2 separate regions of the Homo sapiens genome follow, and region 1 is linked to region 2. A link means that fine-mapping ties the variant in region 2 to the expression of a gene that starts in the linked region. Tissue or cell type: tibial artery. Region 2 holds a variant in brackets; the other region holds the start of a gene. All regions are shown on one strand. Distances are from middle to middle.

Region 1 (8,128 bases), 420 kb before region 2:
AAAGAATGGCTTCCTAATCTTAATACCTGAAGCTCTATGAGAAGCTTCCTTAATTTTAGGCCACAGTTAATCCTACAAGATAATCTTATAGCTATAATAAGATAGTTTATTTTGTGCGATTATTATAATGCTAATTGTGACCAGCCAGAAGAACACAATACATAGAATGGAACAAATGTCCTGATGGAAACCTAAATATTTTACTTTTATTGTACTTCACATTTGTGTTTTTATTTTATTTGCAGAGGGTAAAGTTTTCTAGTCTCCACCTTTATATATTTCTGAGCTCTTTAAACCACACCTGTCTCAATGCTGTGAGGAAGTTATTAGAATTTGAGTTATTAAGATTTGAGTTTCCTTCCTACTCCAATCATTGCATCTTCTTTGAGGTAGAGAATCCTACTTTTTTTCTAGTAGTATTGATCCAATAAAAGTTTCCCAAGGCAATTTTGACTATTTTTTGTTGTTTTTGTTTAGCAGGAGAAAAAAATCTTTTACAACTTTTGCATGTACTCAAACCAATTTGAAAACACATTGTGTATGAAAATGTAAGGATTTAAATAATCAGGCTTCTGATACATATGTAAAATACATATGCAAATTAATATTTAAAATTTGCTGACTTCACATAGGACCAAATCATCAGACTAGCCTGGTTATAACCCATAACACATGTAAACCATGTCAAAATTTTTTTCTGATAAAATCTTATAATTTGTCAAGCATTACTCCTATAATTTCACTTTGATTATGCTTGAAATCCTACTCCCTACCCCACAAATGGTCACACTCATTTTCTCATTCTCAGTGTCATCAAAATGCAGCTGTTCTGCCCAAAATGGGAAATGTTGAAGCTACAACCAAGAAAGCTTGCTAAAGTGACTACAAAGACACTGATTGCTTTTTTCTCAGAAAGCAGATTACTTTGCAGTGAGTTTTTCTCCACTATCTCTCTTCCCAAAATGAGTAAGATAGGCATAAATCGTGTTAATGCAGTAGCATCATGAATTGGTATCTCCCCCTCATCTTCCAGGTTGTCATGGTGCTGTTTGCCCATGGTGTAAAGAGATTGTACATTTCCATTAATATTGGAGACTCATGCAAAATGCCAGTGGCTGAGATACTTTTTGGAGGCTTGGGCCAAATGGTTCCAGATGCTTACAAGGCATTATTTGCAAAGTAGATGTAGTCAGTCTAATAAATTGCTGACTGGAGCTACAGTGGGAACCATCTAATTGAATTGGGAGTCTATAATTTATTTATTTTTTTAAACAATAACCAACCTTCTTGTGTCTAGGATTTTTACACTTCTCTTTCTAAACTTGACAGATGCTTCAAGTCCTCAGGCTTCTCCACTGTCCCTTGTGCAGTTGTAATATTTTCCTCTGGTCTGTTTCCACTAATTCTCTAAACTGTCTATGTCCTTCACATAGTCCCTTTCTTTGCTGAGTTGGCTCATGTATGTTGCACTTTCCATAGGAAAACAAAATAATTTCTGCATTTGTGGACCACATTTTCTCATTAATTTGTGTAATTAGTGCTTGACAATATATAAAATAAATGAGAACATTGTCTAAAATGTGAAGAATTAGGAAGAGAGTTAATTTTCACTCTTTCTCTATATTTGTTATTCCACACTACTTGGTTATAAATGCTTGGATGTTAAAATGACTAAAACTACATCATGTAAGCTTTTCAGAATTTCATTATTTTTCGGCTATATTTAGAAAAAAAAATCCAATTCTATGGTACCAAAAGAACTTTAGTATTTCCCAATGATAGTGAAAAATATTATTTTATGTAATAGTTTTTCCAGATATGAAATACTCACATGTCTTGTATTTAAAATATTGCTGAGTAGTTGGAAAAATTAGGATGGAGACACCCCAACAAAATAAGAACATGTCCCAAGTAAAACAAGTCCACCTAAAGTTTTACAGAAAATATTTATTGTGATGAGACTAATAAAATCTTTCTGACATTGAATAGTATTAAAAAATGTTTCTCAAAGAGGTTTATGTCTAATCAGTCAGGAAGAAGCAGTGTCGGCTTTGCTGTTTGTCTGGTAGTTTTGAATTTTGGGGGATACTGTGTCTTTTCTCCTGAGAATGTAAAATTGGGCTCTCACTGCTGACATAAATGTGCTAAGAGACAGTTGTAAAATATTTATGGTATGGAATAGCGGATAAATAGCTAGCATGCACAACTTGAATGCCAATTAATACCCTGGAAAACATTTTCAAAGCTTTAATAATTCAACATGGCTTATTTTACTAATGAAAATCTAGTTTAACCATTTCCATGGTAATGTAACTAAGTGGGTAAGGGAGTAAAAATAGCCTCAGGCTCACTAAAGCCCTGGATGCCTTCACTGTGGCTTTATTTCTGCTCCACCTAATAAGGCATGCAAACTTCAGCATTAAGTATCCCTAACTAAAATCCATTCCATTTTATCACCAGATTGCTTGATCTATTCAGTGCTGGATTCGATTAGCATGCTTAGAGAATCTGAAAAATGAGATACATACCAAAATTTAAGTCCCCAGGGAGAGCTAAGTGCAATAACCAGAAGGTGACTTGTGTCTGTCAGAGCCCTCTCTCACGGTTGATCTCAGGGCAGTTCTGTAGGAGTAATCCAGCACCATAAGAAATAGACTTGTAGTTCAGCTCAGTGTTTCTTCAATTAAAGTGCATTGTGTCTGGATGGGAAAAGTGTCGACTCCCAGATTCTTCATCACTAGATCAGAGCATTCTCGATGTCCTTCCTATCAGATAAAATGGCCTTTAAAGTTTGCTAGGAAGATGCAGTGGCGGAAGACAGGTGCTTGCTTCCTTAAATCGACATTCGGAGAAAAGAGGGCATAGCTAATGGGTGGGGATGAACACACAGCCCCTCTCCTTCCAGGTCCAGCAGGGAAGAAATTGAATGATTTTACCCACTTTGCTACACAGATGATTACAGGACCAGAAGCAATCACCAAGCTGGCTAATGTACCTCATTTGATTATATTCTGCGAAGACAAAAATAAATGAAAACAAAAAATCAGAAACATCCTTTCTAAATGTCTCCTTTCAGCCAAAAAGATGCTCTTTCTCATTGCCACTTACATACAGAAGGTTTGGAGCAGCCCAGCTTGTGGCATAGTCCCTCCCCCGTGACAACCAGCTCTCTCTCTCTCATTCTCTCTCCCTCCACTCCCTCCCTCCCTCCCTGCCCCTGACTCCCTCCCTTCCTGCTTCTCTTTCTCCTCTCCAGCTGCCTTAGTCTGTTGAAGCTGCTGCTGATTAATCAGGGATTCTGAAACAAAGAACCTACCTTCTGAAATAAGCAGTAATCTTTCTTCTCTGTTTCTGCAATCCGTCTGCATTGAACGGCAAGGCTGCCAGCGTTCTAGCACCTTGGATAGTTCCTGCTCACTAGGCCCATTGGAAAAGGGAGAAGCAACTGAAGAAATTGCAAGAAACCGGAAAGCGGCATCGTTCTACTTTGGATTTCGGCTCCCTGGGGGCTCCCATCCTCATTAAAGGCCTCACATCTAGGCAACAGAACCTCTCTCTTTTATCTAACTGAGCTGAAGTCTGATTAGTAAATAATAAAAGGAAAAGAGGGTAAAGAAACACCCTTCATTTATATTCACTATAGCACTAATTCAGTCTTTATGGAGAGGAAAAATATAAATCCATTGAAAACAAATGTTCTTACTACAGAGAATGGTTAAGTTATAAGCATTTCACCCCTGGCGTGGCTAATGAAAATGAACAACAACTTAAATGGAACATCTAGATCTCAGTTTGATACCCTTATTTGATATCAATTTTGCCTCCACCCTCCCTGCACAGCCGAGCCATGCACACAATTACTGCTGACGTACTTCAGGCTGCTGCTTGGGGAGAGAGGGGAGGAGCCTTTTAACCTCATCAAAACAGCTTCATGCCACCTGCTCCCATGGCATGAGAACAAAACTAGTCCACTTAGAAAGAATATGCACAGCACACACGTGTGTGGAACAAAGGTCTTACTCGGACTGCACATTTTTTTAACTAAAATAAGATGCAAAATAATTATGATATGTATGTCATTAATTCCTATAGACTCATTGTTAAAATTAAAGTCATTCTATTTCTGATATTTCCCAAAGACTCTCCTCATTCTGTTCTTAATACTCTACTGAATATATACATATATATCACATTATATACCACAACTTATATATGTGTGTTTGTGTGTATTTGTATTTATTAAGCTCAAAGTTTTTCTCATACTGGCTCCTCCTCAGTAAAAACTAAAATGTACATGTTTTAATCTATTAATTTTGCACTATGATAAAAGGAATAATATATAATATGTTTCTGATGGATATGAGCTTAAAAAGCAATTTTGATGGGAGGGGATGTGCTTATTACTTGATAGTGACCTATAGATTTTTCCCCTCACATTCTTTTTCAGTAACTCACTGTAAATGACCTTCACTTGCAGGTTGGTTTTCCCAAGAGTGTTTTTTAACGTCTATATTCATAACCAAAGTCTTAGAAAATAGTTTTCTGAATTTAGTTTTTAATGCATTGACAGACCACAAAAATAAACAAGTTCACCTGTCTAATTCTTAAATGTCACCTGAGACTGTGCTGTAATTTTCTTAAATTATATTTCTTTAACTTGTAAGTATCTGGGGAAAAATAAAATCAACACATTACATTACTATAAAGCTTTTCTATTTTACATGTCCTGAAGTGCATTCCTGAAGCTCATCACTTATTTCTTGGTCTTTGTGTATCTAGCTTTTGGTTAGAACAGGACATCTGTTTAATTTTAAGAAGGATTCTGCAAGATTAGATAGATGAAAAGGAGGAGAAATACAAACGGGGAAGAGAAGAGGCCAGACCTCTCTCATATTCTCTTCCCCCTATCCCAATGCTCTCCCTTTCCCTCTCTCTCTCTCTCTCTCTGCCTTATGAAGGTTCTAAATACTTAGCACATTGCTGAAAAGTGCCTCAAGCACCACTTATAAACTAGTAACAGCCACCACACTGTGATCAAGAGGTTTACTAATGTGCCATTATTTTGGTAGTGAAGTGTTCTCATAGATGTTGTCTTTCAGCACATGACCAAAGGTGGAAAAAGTTCTTTACAAAAAAAAAATTATTGACAGACATTTTAGAAAACGGAAACACTTTATCATGACTGATAATTTTGCCAGTCTGGGGGTCTATATTTTGAACTATGGAGAGCTTGAATAAGCTCTAGTGTAAAGCCCATTTCTATATGTAAGAAAAATACTACCAAGATAAGTAAACAGACTTACTTGTTTCTGACTTACTTAATTGCCTCATTAGGATTAAGACCCAAGGTCCCTGGGCTGACTGCAGGTCTCCTCATCTTTGGCCAGTACAGTGGTTCTCAGTCCCCTTGATTTCATGCACCAAAATAATCCAAACAAAGTGAGGAGAGGCTGACATACAGTTGCCAAGCATAAAAAATGAAGAATCTGCCATTTCCTCACCACAAAAATTCAAAAAGTAAAAGGAATCTTTATATTAGAAGAATAGAGAAAGCATATTTATAACAATAGATGGTCTTTTAAGTTTCATATATTCAACTTTAGGAAAATATATCTTTTTCTTTCTTTCCTTCCTTCCTTCCTCCCTCTCCTCCCTCCCCTTTCCTTCCTTGTTTTGTTTCTTCTTTCTTTCCTTCATTCCTTGCTTCATCCCTCCCTCCCTTTCTCCCTTCCTTCTTTCCTTCCTCTTTTCCTTCTTTACTTCCTTCCTTCCTTCCTACTTGCCTGCCTCCCTGCCTTTTTCTTTTTCTTTCTTTTTCTCTTTATATTACAGAATAGGGCTTGAGAATCATCACATTTTACCAATCCCATTTTCTCAATCCCACACTTTCCTCATTCTAGGTGTCAATGTCACTGACAGGGCAATATATTCTCTGGAGACATATTAGTGTATAGGAGTTTATAGAACCTTTGAGGATCGTGCTGAGAAGGACCCCAGAACTACTTTAGGTCTCACTGAATGAAACAGCAAAGCATCTTTACTCTTGCAAATCATCTTAGAGCCAAATGCAGAACGCACCTCTACTCATTTCAATAGTATCTGGAGAAAAGTGCGTTGGACAAAATTTAAGTTAAAAATCCTCATATCGGGAATAAAGGTATAGAGATATTTAAAAAGCTCAAATTATACTCATGTATTGGTTTATTTCTTGTGCATCTTTATAAAATACATGGATGTTTCTATTCTATTTCTACTCTATTGAATAGACATCTTATTGATGTCAATAAGAAACAAGTCATTGAGATACCTGATGACTTGATATTTCTTTTAAAGTTCTTTAGTCAGGGTAGAGTTTAGCTCTTTTGGTTACACTGTATTAATAGAGTTTGATGCTTTGGGGGTTAAATAGGTCCCTTCAGTGAACTTGGATAGACCAGACGAGTCAGCGCCCTGAAAATGCTTCTTATTCTATACATCAGCCAGATGGTGGAAAGTGCTTGTTGTATAAAAGTGACGTAAATGAGAAAAGTGAGAATTGAAATAGAATAATTTAGTTACCTAAATTTTAAAGGGTTTATTCAAATACATGAAGTGAGGATGAACTCTCTGAAGTCATATCAAAATTTACTACAAAGCCTTTCTAGTTTTTTTTTTTTTTCCATGATCTGTACTCTTTCTATCATTCTTTTCACATTTAGCTTAGGAAGGTGACCCCTCTGTTAAAATGAAATTATTCCACTAAGGAAAAAGCTAATCTCCTTCCCATCCAATCAGGATTTCTAACCCTTCTGGTAACAGTGTGAAATGAAAGTCTTGGTAGAATGAAAACCATATGCTCCTCATGATTTTTGCCTATAACAATGTAGATGTCGACAGAAGTTGCACATATGACTTAGGGGTCGTGGGGCAGCAAATGGTGATATGGGTGCTCCAAGATCCAGCATACTCAGTAGCTAAAACAGAAAGAAAAAGTAAAAGATTTATGGTCTAATAATACACACAAAAAACTACTTTTACAGTGCCAAGGGGGAAAACTGACAATAAATGAAATATTCCCCTGGCAAGAGACTTAGGAATAGATCCAAACATCCCTCCATTGTTTTGTCCAACAGATATTTTCCAGTAAAGATTTCAGAAATACCATCAATGTATTCATCGCTATACTAAAAATGATAAAAATATTTCTAAACAAGGATCCATATATTCTAGTGAATCACACACCCACACTCCAACCAACCATCTCTCTTCTTTGCATGAACAATATCTATACTTTTCAAAAGTCAAGTATGTCTTACTCTCATAGTTTGTCCTAATTTACCACATTCAAACTGGATGCTTGCTCTCTGTATTATGAAATATCCAGTATAATTAAAAATAAAATCATGAATTTTTTATACTCTACCAAATATTCCTATTTCATTGTTCAAATGTTTTTGCCTAAGAGTCCTTAAGAGTGGAGCCCTTCCTTTCTGTTCGCATGGCCCCAGCTTACTGATTGCATCTAGCCAGTGGTAGGGATTTATTGAATGAATGCATGACTACATATCTCATCTGGTGACATATTCTGCACAAGTAGAAAATTCAAATGTATCCATATAATGAACATGAGATTGTCTTTTTTTAAAATAAAAGTATAAATGGAAATTTAAATATACAAGTAACCAAACTAAACTCCAAGTAAGTGAGGAAGAAAAATATTTCCAAAGGGACTCCATAGTTTTTCTAACTAAAAATGCAAAATAACCAGTTTGAAACTTACTAGAAATAATAAAATTGCTCCATAGGAAGACCAACTGAATATATGAACATAAGGATCATATTTAGAGAAAACAGTAAGATTCTTCTAAGATACTGTTTTAGTCAACTCAGGCTTTGAAAACAAGATACAATCGACTGAGTGGCTTAAATAACAGAATTTTATTTTTCACAGTTCTGGAGCTTGGATACTCCAAGATCAAGGTGCTGGCAGATTTGGCTTCTGGTCAGGGATTCTTTGCTGGCTTGCAAATTGTACCTTCTGGCTGTGTGTCCTCACATGGGAGGGAGGGAGGGAAGGAGGGAGGGGGAGAGAGACAGAGAGAGAGAAGAGAGAGAAGAGAGAGTAGAGAGACAGAGAGACTCTTCCTCT
Region 2 (8,000 bases):
TGTCAGAGTTGACTGTGCTTGTTATGGCCTGAATATCCAGAAGAACCAAGTTGCCATTCAGATAAAGAACACAGAAGTGGAAAGTTTGGAGACAGAATCTAAGCTCACCCTAAGGATGCTGAGTTTGAAATCCCTGTTAGGTCTATAGATGGAGATGTCAAGTAGGAAGTTGCATATATGTCTGGAGTTTCAAGGAACTATATAAAGAGGAGTAAAGCCTAGCCCAATGTAAACATCAATAACCGATTGATAAATGATCTTTCTCTCTTCTAATCTCCTATAATATTTATAGTGTATAAATCCATTTGAAAGTTAATCACGCATTACCTTCTAACACATCTCTGCCTATTTACTTGAATGTATAATTGTTTATTTACTTGCTGATCACATATTTTTCTTATCTCACTGGTAGACAGGAAATTCCATCTACCAGAGCAATCGCTTCCTAATTAATGTTCTCCTTGCTTTGACCTTGACCCTCAAAGGCAGAAAGTAAGCCTACTTTTTTTTTTCCGAGACGGAGTCTTGCTCTATTGCCCAGGCTGGAGTGTGTTGGTGCAATCTCAGCTCACTGCAACCTCCGCTTCCAGGGTTCAAGCGATTCTTCTGCCTCAGCCTCCCAAGTAGCTGGGATTACAGGCACGTGCCACCACATCTGCTAATTTTTTGTATTTTTAATAGAGACGAGGTATCACCATGTGGGCCAGGCTGGTCTCGAACTCCTGACCTCGTGTTCCACTCGCCTCAGCCTCCCAAAGTGCTGGTATTACAGGCATGAGCCACCACACCTAGCCTCTAAGCTTCCTTCTTGCTCCATTAGTACCCAGCCCAAAGCCTTTTACATCGAAGCTAAATAGGGATCTGTTGATTATTTGATATTTTTAAGCAGTTGTCACTAATATGCAAAATTCAGTTGATAAAGATGCCCACTTAACTCTTAATTGAAATGTCCAAGAGTGAGTTAAGGATGAAGAAAGTTGCCAGGATAAATACAAGGCTTTGAATATTGATACCCTTCAGAAGGCTTTGGCATTCAAAACTTCATAATGGAAGTTGTATCAGAGTCTCATTCCTGTGGTCTAGGTTCTGAATCTTTGTGCAGAGATAAGATTTGGGCTGGCATAATTGTAGTCTAGCCTATATAGTCCAAAGTGGAGAGAAATTGCTAAATATCAAAATTAACTAATGTAGATTCTTATTTAAAAGAAACACATGAATCCTGACATCTGAGACCATTACAATGGCCTGTTACGATGCAGTCAAGTTTAACGGGGAAAAAATGAAGAAATTCCTTTAAAGCTTTAATTTTATCTCTCACTCAAAAAAACTTTTTGGTGGGAGAATTAACAGAAACTTTCATAATTTTTTTTTACTTCCTTTATAGCATATTTTCTTAAAGTTCTCAGACACTAATTCAATTTATGTAGATTTACTATTTTCTGGTTAATGTCTATTATTTCCTATGTCATTTACTCATCACCAACCCCAGAAGTTAGCTTCATTTTAAGTCTTTTTCTTTCCCCTTCCCCCGAAAGAGAATGTTTTTCTGTTCACACTTTGGAGTTTAGAGGTGGCACAAGAGGAGAAAGAAAAGCAAGTGTTGGTCAGGCTACTAGTCTCACTTTGGTTATATGACCAATACCCACACACCAGATTCACAGGTCTCAACTCAAAAGTGAAAAAAAACTTTAAAATCCATGAACATTCTGGGGTTTCTCTGAAATAGTAGAAACCATAACATTTAAATTTAGGACTGCCAAAGATCTAGCATATACAGCAAGCCAAATATGGCTTTGTCTTGAATTTTCGTCTAAGGCAGGAAATTAACAATAGCCTAAATTTGCGGTGAGTTGGGAAGGTGAAATCTCTTCTGTGAGTCAAGGATGTGTGCACTTATATGGCAAACATTTCTGAGTAAGGGAATTGCAGTTACTGCTCCAAGACCTCCCTGACAAGTCCTCTCTGTTGGTGCTTCAGAATTTGCTCGGTCCAGCACTCTGATTAACTATACAGTTTGTGGGTCAAAATCTGCCTGCAGCCATACAGTGCTTGAGCTAAGAATGATTTTCACAGTTTTAAATGTTACAAAACAAAACCAAAAACAAAAGAAGGAGGAAGAGGGTGGCATAGGGCAAAAGATACAGAGACCATATATGGCCCACCAAGCCTAAAGTATTCTGACCATTTACAGAAAATGCTTACTGACCCCTGTCTGGTGAATGACGTGGCCTCAACCACAAAGGAACCTTTTTTTTTTTTTTTTTAATTAACTTTGACCTCTACAGCGTATTTTCTGTTATCCCCGACAAGATACCAGGGAACTTGGTTTTTTCCCTGGGTACCTGTTGTTCACCTGAGGGTCTGAGAACTACTATGATTGAGAAACTCTAGATTTCAAGTCAGAGTCTCAAGTCTGTCACTTAATATTAATAAAAGCCCAGATAACCTAGACATGCTGACTCATTTCTCCTAGTTGGCTAAATGGGGACTATTATCTGTCCTGTCTGTTGGAAGCACCAGAATATTGACTTTTTAAATTATTATTATTTTACTTTAAGTTCTGGGATGCATGTGCAGAACGTGCAGGTTTGTTACACAGGTATACATGTGCCATGGTGGTTTGCTGCACCTATCAACCCATCATCTAGGTTTTAAGCCCTGCATGCATTAAGTGTTTTTCCTAATGCTCTCCCTCCCCTTTCCCCCCACCCCTCAACAGGCCCTGGTGTGTGATGTTCCCCTCCCTGTGTCCATGTGTTCTCATTGTTCAACTCCCACTTATGAGTGAGAACATGTGGTGTTTGGTTTTCTGTTCCTGTGACTTTCGTAGAATCACATTGTAAACTAATTCACATTATAAAGCGATGGAGTCTTGCAGGTCGGCAGGCTCACATGGCTTATAAGAAATCCACAGTATGCTGGTCAGAATTCATTGTATCCCCTGGGTAACTCACTCAGCAATATAGGGAGGTGATTTACATTAGGATTTCACTGTATTTGTTCCACACCCAAAAAAAGGTGGTACAGTGAACAAGAGAGGCCAGTGAGGGTGTTATCAAGCTTCTACTTGATTTGCTTTTTGACCTTCAGCAAATCCCCACATTCGGGTCCCCCACTTGTAGAAGACAATAATTCTTCTTTCCTGCTCAAGTACTTTGAGAACCTCATATAAGGAAGCAAGTTAAATGAAGGAAATGAATTATTTATGAAAACAGTAATTCCATATCTTTGGAACATACATTTGTTTAATTTGTGTCCTATGAATACAATCAGGACCAGAGAGGGACATACTATGGAAACTATGGAAACTACTCCAAAGGAAATAAATTGACTCTCTTCTTATCCCTATAGTAAATATTCTAACCTAACAAAGTTTTATTATCAAAGAATGTTAACATGTTTTGCCCAGTTTCATCTTTTTCAGTATATGTATGAAGAAGAAACAATTTCCAGAATCTCTAAATCCTGAGCTAATGTTTCTATTTCATTTCAGTGAGGTTGAATCTTGAATATATGAATATTATCAGATTCCCCTGGGAAAGAAAGCCTGTGTCATGGAGTATGAGTTTAAACAGTCTACCATAAATGGGTATAACATGGAGCTTTAAAGCACATAGAATCTTTGGAG[G/T]TATTTTCCCTTGTGAACTAATTTTGAGTTGCATCCCAAAGCCACAGAAAATGGACAAATGAATTGAATGGCTTCTCTCTGGGTATGAGAATTAATTGAATGTAATGAGAGCCTTAGTAATTAGCAACATAAATCTTCGAGGTAAAGGCTTACTAAACTCCAATTACGCCCTGTATCATCTTGTTCAGATAATCTTGCATCTTTTTAATTCTCCAAATTGTACCAAATTTAGAAATGATTAGAAGCAAAGAAAAAATACACAGTGTCTAAAAAGAAAAATCAAAACAGCTTAAAATCTAAAACCAACACAGTGATAAAGAAAATCGGAAAACCAAGTATCGGTGTGGTGATTGGGGGAGGTGATACATAGAAACTTATACCAAAAACAAAGCAAATTCAACTATATGTAGATAGAGCTATAGATAAATACATATCACACACACACGTATATATACTCATATATACGTGTGTGTATATGTTATATATAATATATATATATTATATATATAATATATATGATATATATAGAGAGAACATTATACCTTTAGTGGATGTACGTGTTTTGGGGGAAATCATACTGTGGAGATGAAAAACATCATATTACCAAGTAAAAACATGTAGTTTTATGGCTAGAAAAAGTATAGACTCCAACAAATTACTGCTAATAAAACGTCTGTTAATTTTTAAAACATAATCAAATATAGAAAAAAACTGGTATGCTTGTTTGGGGTTTTGTTTCTTTGCCTTCTAGAAGAGTAGTTTTTAGGATTTTCTCTAAACGCCAGGCTTCAATATAATAAAACTTTGTGAAAACTGAGTAATACAGTTGAGGATATAATGTGTCTTTTGGCAAACCAGATATAAATACAGTATTTTTGTCAGCCTTCAATAAGTTTCTTGTGGATAGCTGTTTTATTCTCAGATTTTATTTTCATGGAACTGATTTACTCTGATAGGGGCTAAAGCTTAGGGTTTTTGAAATTCATTTTTCCAAATCTATTTCATTCTGCTGGAACGTATTTTAGTTTTTAAGACCATGCCCAATACATTCAATTTGCATGCAGTGAGTTTGTCATGGTTAGATTGTCTAAACATCAGAAACTCAATAAACAACTGAGACAATTGCACCTTGCATTTGGTAGGCACAGATGACAATAGACTGCTGCTGCCCTGCACTTACAGTTTGGTGGCAGACACAGAGCTCAAACAAATGGAAAATTGTAATCATGATAAGTACTTCCCTGAGAATTGCATTCTACCTTACCTTAAAACTGCATCCTTTGGACATCGCACCTCCTCAAATCAGTCAGGGAAGGCCTCCCCTAAGGCAGTGGCAATGCAGCTGAGACCTGGAGAATAAATAGATGCTAAGAAGAAACAGAAAAACCTCTGTACCCAGAAACCACATGAGAAAATGCCACATGCCAGCCCTGATTTACATTGCATTGCCATGGGTGAGGAACCAGGGTGTGTGGGTCTGAGTCACTTGCCAAAGCACTTGCTGGCAGTGTGATCTCTGGGTCAGCTATTTAAATTCTGTATACCTTGGCTTCCCTGTCTGTAAAATGAGAGTCGTGAGGGTGCCTATCTGCCTTAGTTTCCTATTTCTGCTGTAATAAATGACCACGAACTTAGTTTTAAACAACACACATATTGTCTTACAGTTAAAACACGTGTATTACATTTCTGGAGATCAGAAATCTGAAACGGATCTCACTGGGCTAAAATTGGCAGAGCTGCATTCCTTTCTCGGGGTGCTAGGGGAGAATCTGTTTCCTTGCCTTTTCCAAGTTCTAGAGGCTGCCCACATTCCTTGGTTTGTGGTCCTGGTTCATCTTCAAAGCCAGAAGCATAGTGTCTTCCAGCGACTCTCCGACTCTGATCTCTGACTCTCCCACCTTCCTCTTTCACTCGTAAGGACCCCTGTGATTACATTGGCCCCACCTGGCTGATCCACGCTCCTCTCCCATCTCTAGGTTAGCTGATTCCCATCTACAGCCTGGATTACCCTCTGCTGTGTAAATGACATAGGCACAGGTTCTGGGGATTAGGACATGTACGTTGTTAAGGGGCTGTTGTTCTGCCTACCATACTATCTATCAGGGTTGTTTAAGGATTCACTGAGTGAATTCAAGTAAAGGGCCTGTAAGAGTGCCTGGCACTTGCTAAGAATTCACTAAGTTTTAGCTATTATTATTGTGTATATTGTCTTATTGAAACAAAGAAAAATTTACAAACTTAATTTACTTTAAAGAATTGTTATAGAAAAAAGAATCTGTTAAGCAGAAACTTACTTTGTGCTTCATAAAATGTGTAAAAATGGAAATTCAAAGTTAGCTTATTTATGAGAGCACTGAAATACTTATTGAATAGATTATTCACACAAATAGATTATTCAAAGAACATAAGTTTATTTGAGTTCTCTTCTGTGTTATCCACTAATTGCCAGTTTTCCGAAATTTAACTTTCAGTTTCTTCTGTTTTCCTTTCATCATTTATTAAAGGAATGTTGCAGCCTTTAATACAACTGAAATTAACCATTTAATTTCAACTTTGTCATTCTCAAATTGTGCCAAATTTAAAAATTATAAGGAACAAAAGCTTGAATGTTTAGGATTTAAAACCACCACAATCATAAAGAAAAGTCGAAAATCAGGTGAGAGAGAATGCATTTTAAGTTCAGTAGGTACAACTGAACTTACTAATTTAGAGATGGAGAATAGATTGTATCTCATTTGTAATTTTAAAGTTATCTCAGTGTTTTTAATTGTGAGTAGATTTTTTATTACAGATTTGTAATCATTAAGAAACTTAAGAATGCAAAATTACAGCATCTTGATTCTTCTACCAATAGGTACTCAATCAAAGGTTTGATGAATGAATGAATGCAAGCCATATCTTATGGGTCATAAAGGTAGAAAGTAGGAATCTGTTAGGTGGAAAGAATATGGATTCATTTGGTAGATTATCTGCATCCTTAATATTGGTCACTGGGTAATCAAGGGCCTTCTTTGCTTTCATACACTTTATGAGAACTGAGTAACCCACAGATTACCTTAAAATTCTGCTTTATGAATAATTGGAGGAAGTGAACATGGAAATAATGTCCAAAAATAATAGTTCTTTGCTGAGCACTTCCAATTCTGATAGTCACTTTGCTACAAACTTTGCACAGTATTCTTTATTTGTTGCCACAGTCCCTCTGAAGGATATTGTGATTTTTGTTCCAATATAGTTAAGGAAGAAATTAAAGCACACGGAGTAGCTCTGACCAATTGAAATATAACATAAGCCACATATGTAATTTTGAATTTTCTAGGGGCCATATTTGAAAAAGAAAAAAAGCATATTAAGTTAGTTTTAATAATATATTTTCTTTAAACCTATATATCCAAACTATTATTATGTTGGCATGTAATCAATATAAAAATTATTACAATACTTCATAGTTTTTTTCACGCCAAATCTTCAAAATGTGGTGTACATTTATACATATAACACATTTCAATTTGGATGCTAAATCTTTAATCACAAATATTTGTTCAGTATTCAGATTTCATAAAATTTATAGTTGAAAGAGTAAATTCATATTCCAAAGTTTCTCCAAAACTAGTTAAATGTTTTCCAGTTACTAGATAAAATAATCAATTCTTAAAGTTAAATCAAAGTTAAATAAAATTAAGTAAAATTAAAGATTTAGTTTCTTTGTCACACTAACCACCTTTCAAGGACTTCATAGCCACTTATGGCTAGTGGTGGCTGCATTGAACTATGAGGTGTAGCTATTACTGCATTTGTCCAAAGTCACCCATCCGGTGTGGCCCTAGGCAAATGTGTACCTGCCACCTTCCCTGCAAGCCCAGCCACACCCACCTCTTTCACTTCACACCCTGCTACAGTGCAACCGCGCCCATTCCTCCCATTCCACCCACCTCCTCTCCTCTCTTCACCTGCAATCTGGCCATGCCCACTTCTTTCACTCCACCCACCTCCCCTCCCCTCTTGCAACCCAACCACACCCTCTTCCCACTGCACCTTCCTGCCCTCCGTGTCTCTGTTGACTCAGGTCTGGGATCTCTTGCAGTGGCATTTTTCTGTTCAATATCCAATAATACAGTGGCATTATTCTGCTCAAATGGTACTTCTCTTTAAAAGTCAGGGTTTTTAATATAGATTATATAGAATAAAATGTTAGAAATTTGATATTATAGAATCCAGCTGCCTCACTGGAAGATGAAATCCAGGCCCAAACAGGTAAATTGACTTATCTGTAGCTTCTACAAAGTTGCTGGCAGAGCAAGGGTATTTGTTCAGGTCTCAAAATGATGAGACCCACATTCTTTTTAACTACATGGTATTTCCTCCTCTTAAT

The links. PIP is the estimated chance that this variant, and not a neighbour inherited with it, causes the effect.
Region 1: NYAP2 starts here. The variant in region 2 is fine-mapped to the expression of NYAP2 in tibial artery (GTEx, PIP 0.97).

What each region holds. Positions count from the first base shown.
Region 1 is chr2:225,395,444-225,403,571 of GRCh38, reverse strand. NYAP2 (neuronal tyrosine-phosphorylated phosphoinositide-3-kinase adaptor 2) reads right to left here and starts at 3,862. Exons shown (of 8, transcript NM_001371273.1): 1 at 3,317-3,862; 2 at 2,529-3,011.
Region 2 is chr2:224,970,947-224,978,946 of GRCh38, reverse strand. All of the region lies in intron 1 of DOCK10 (dedicator of cytokinesis 10), which reads left to right. Among named protein-coding and RNA genes, the nearest start is that of MIR4439, 36 kb to the left of the region's middle. The variant G/T (reference allele first, on the strand shown) is at 3,629.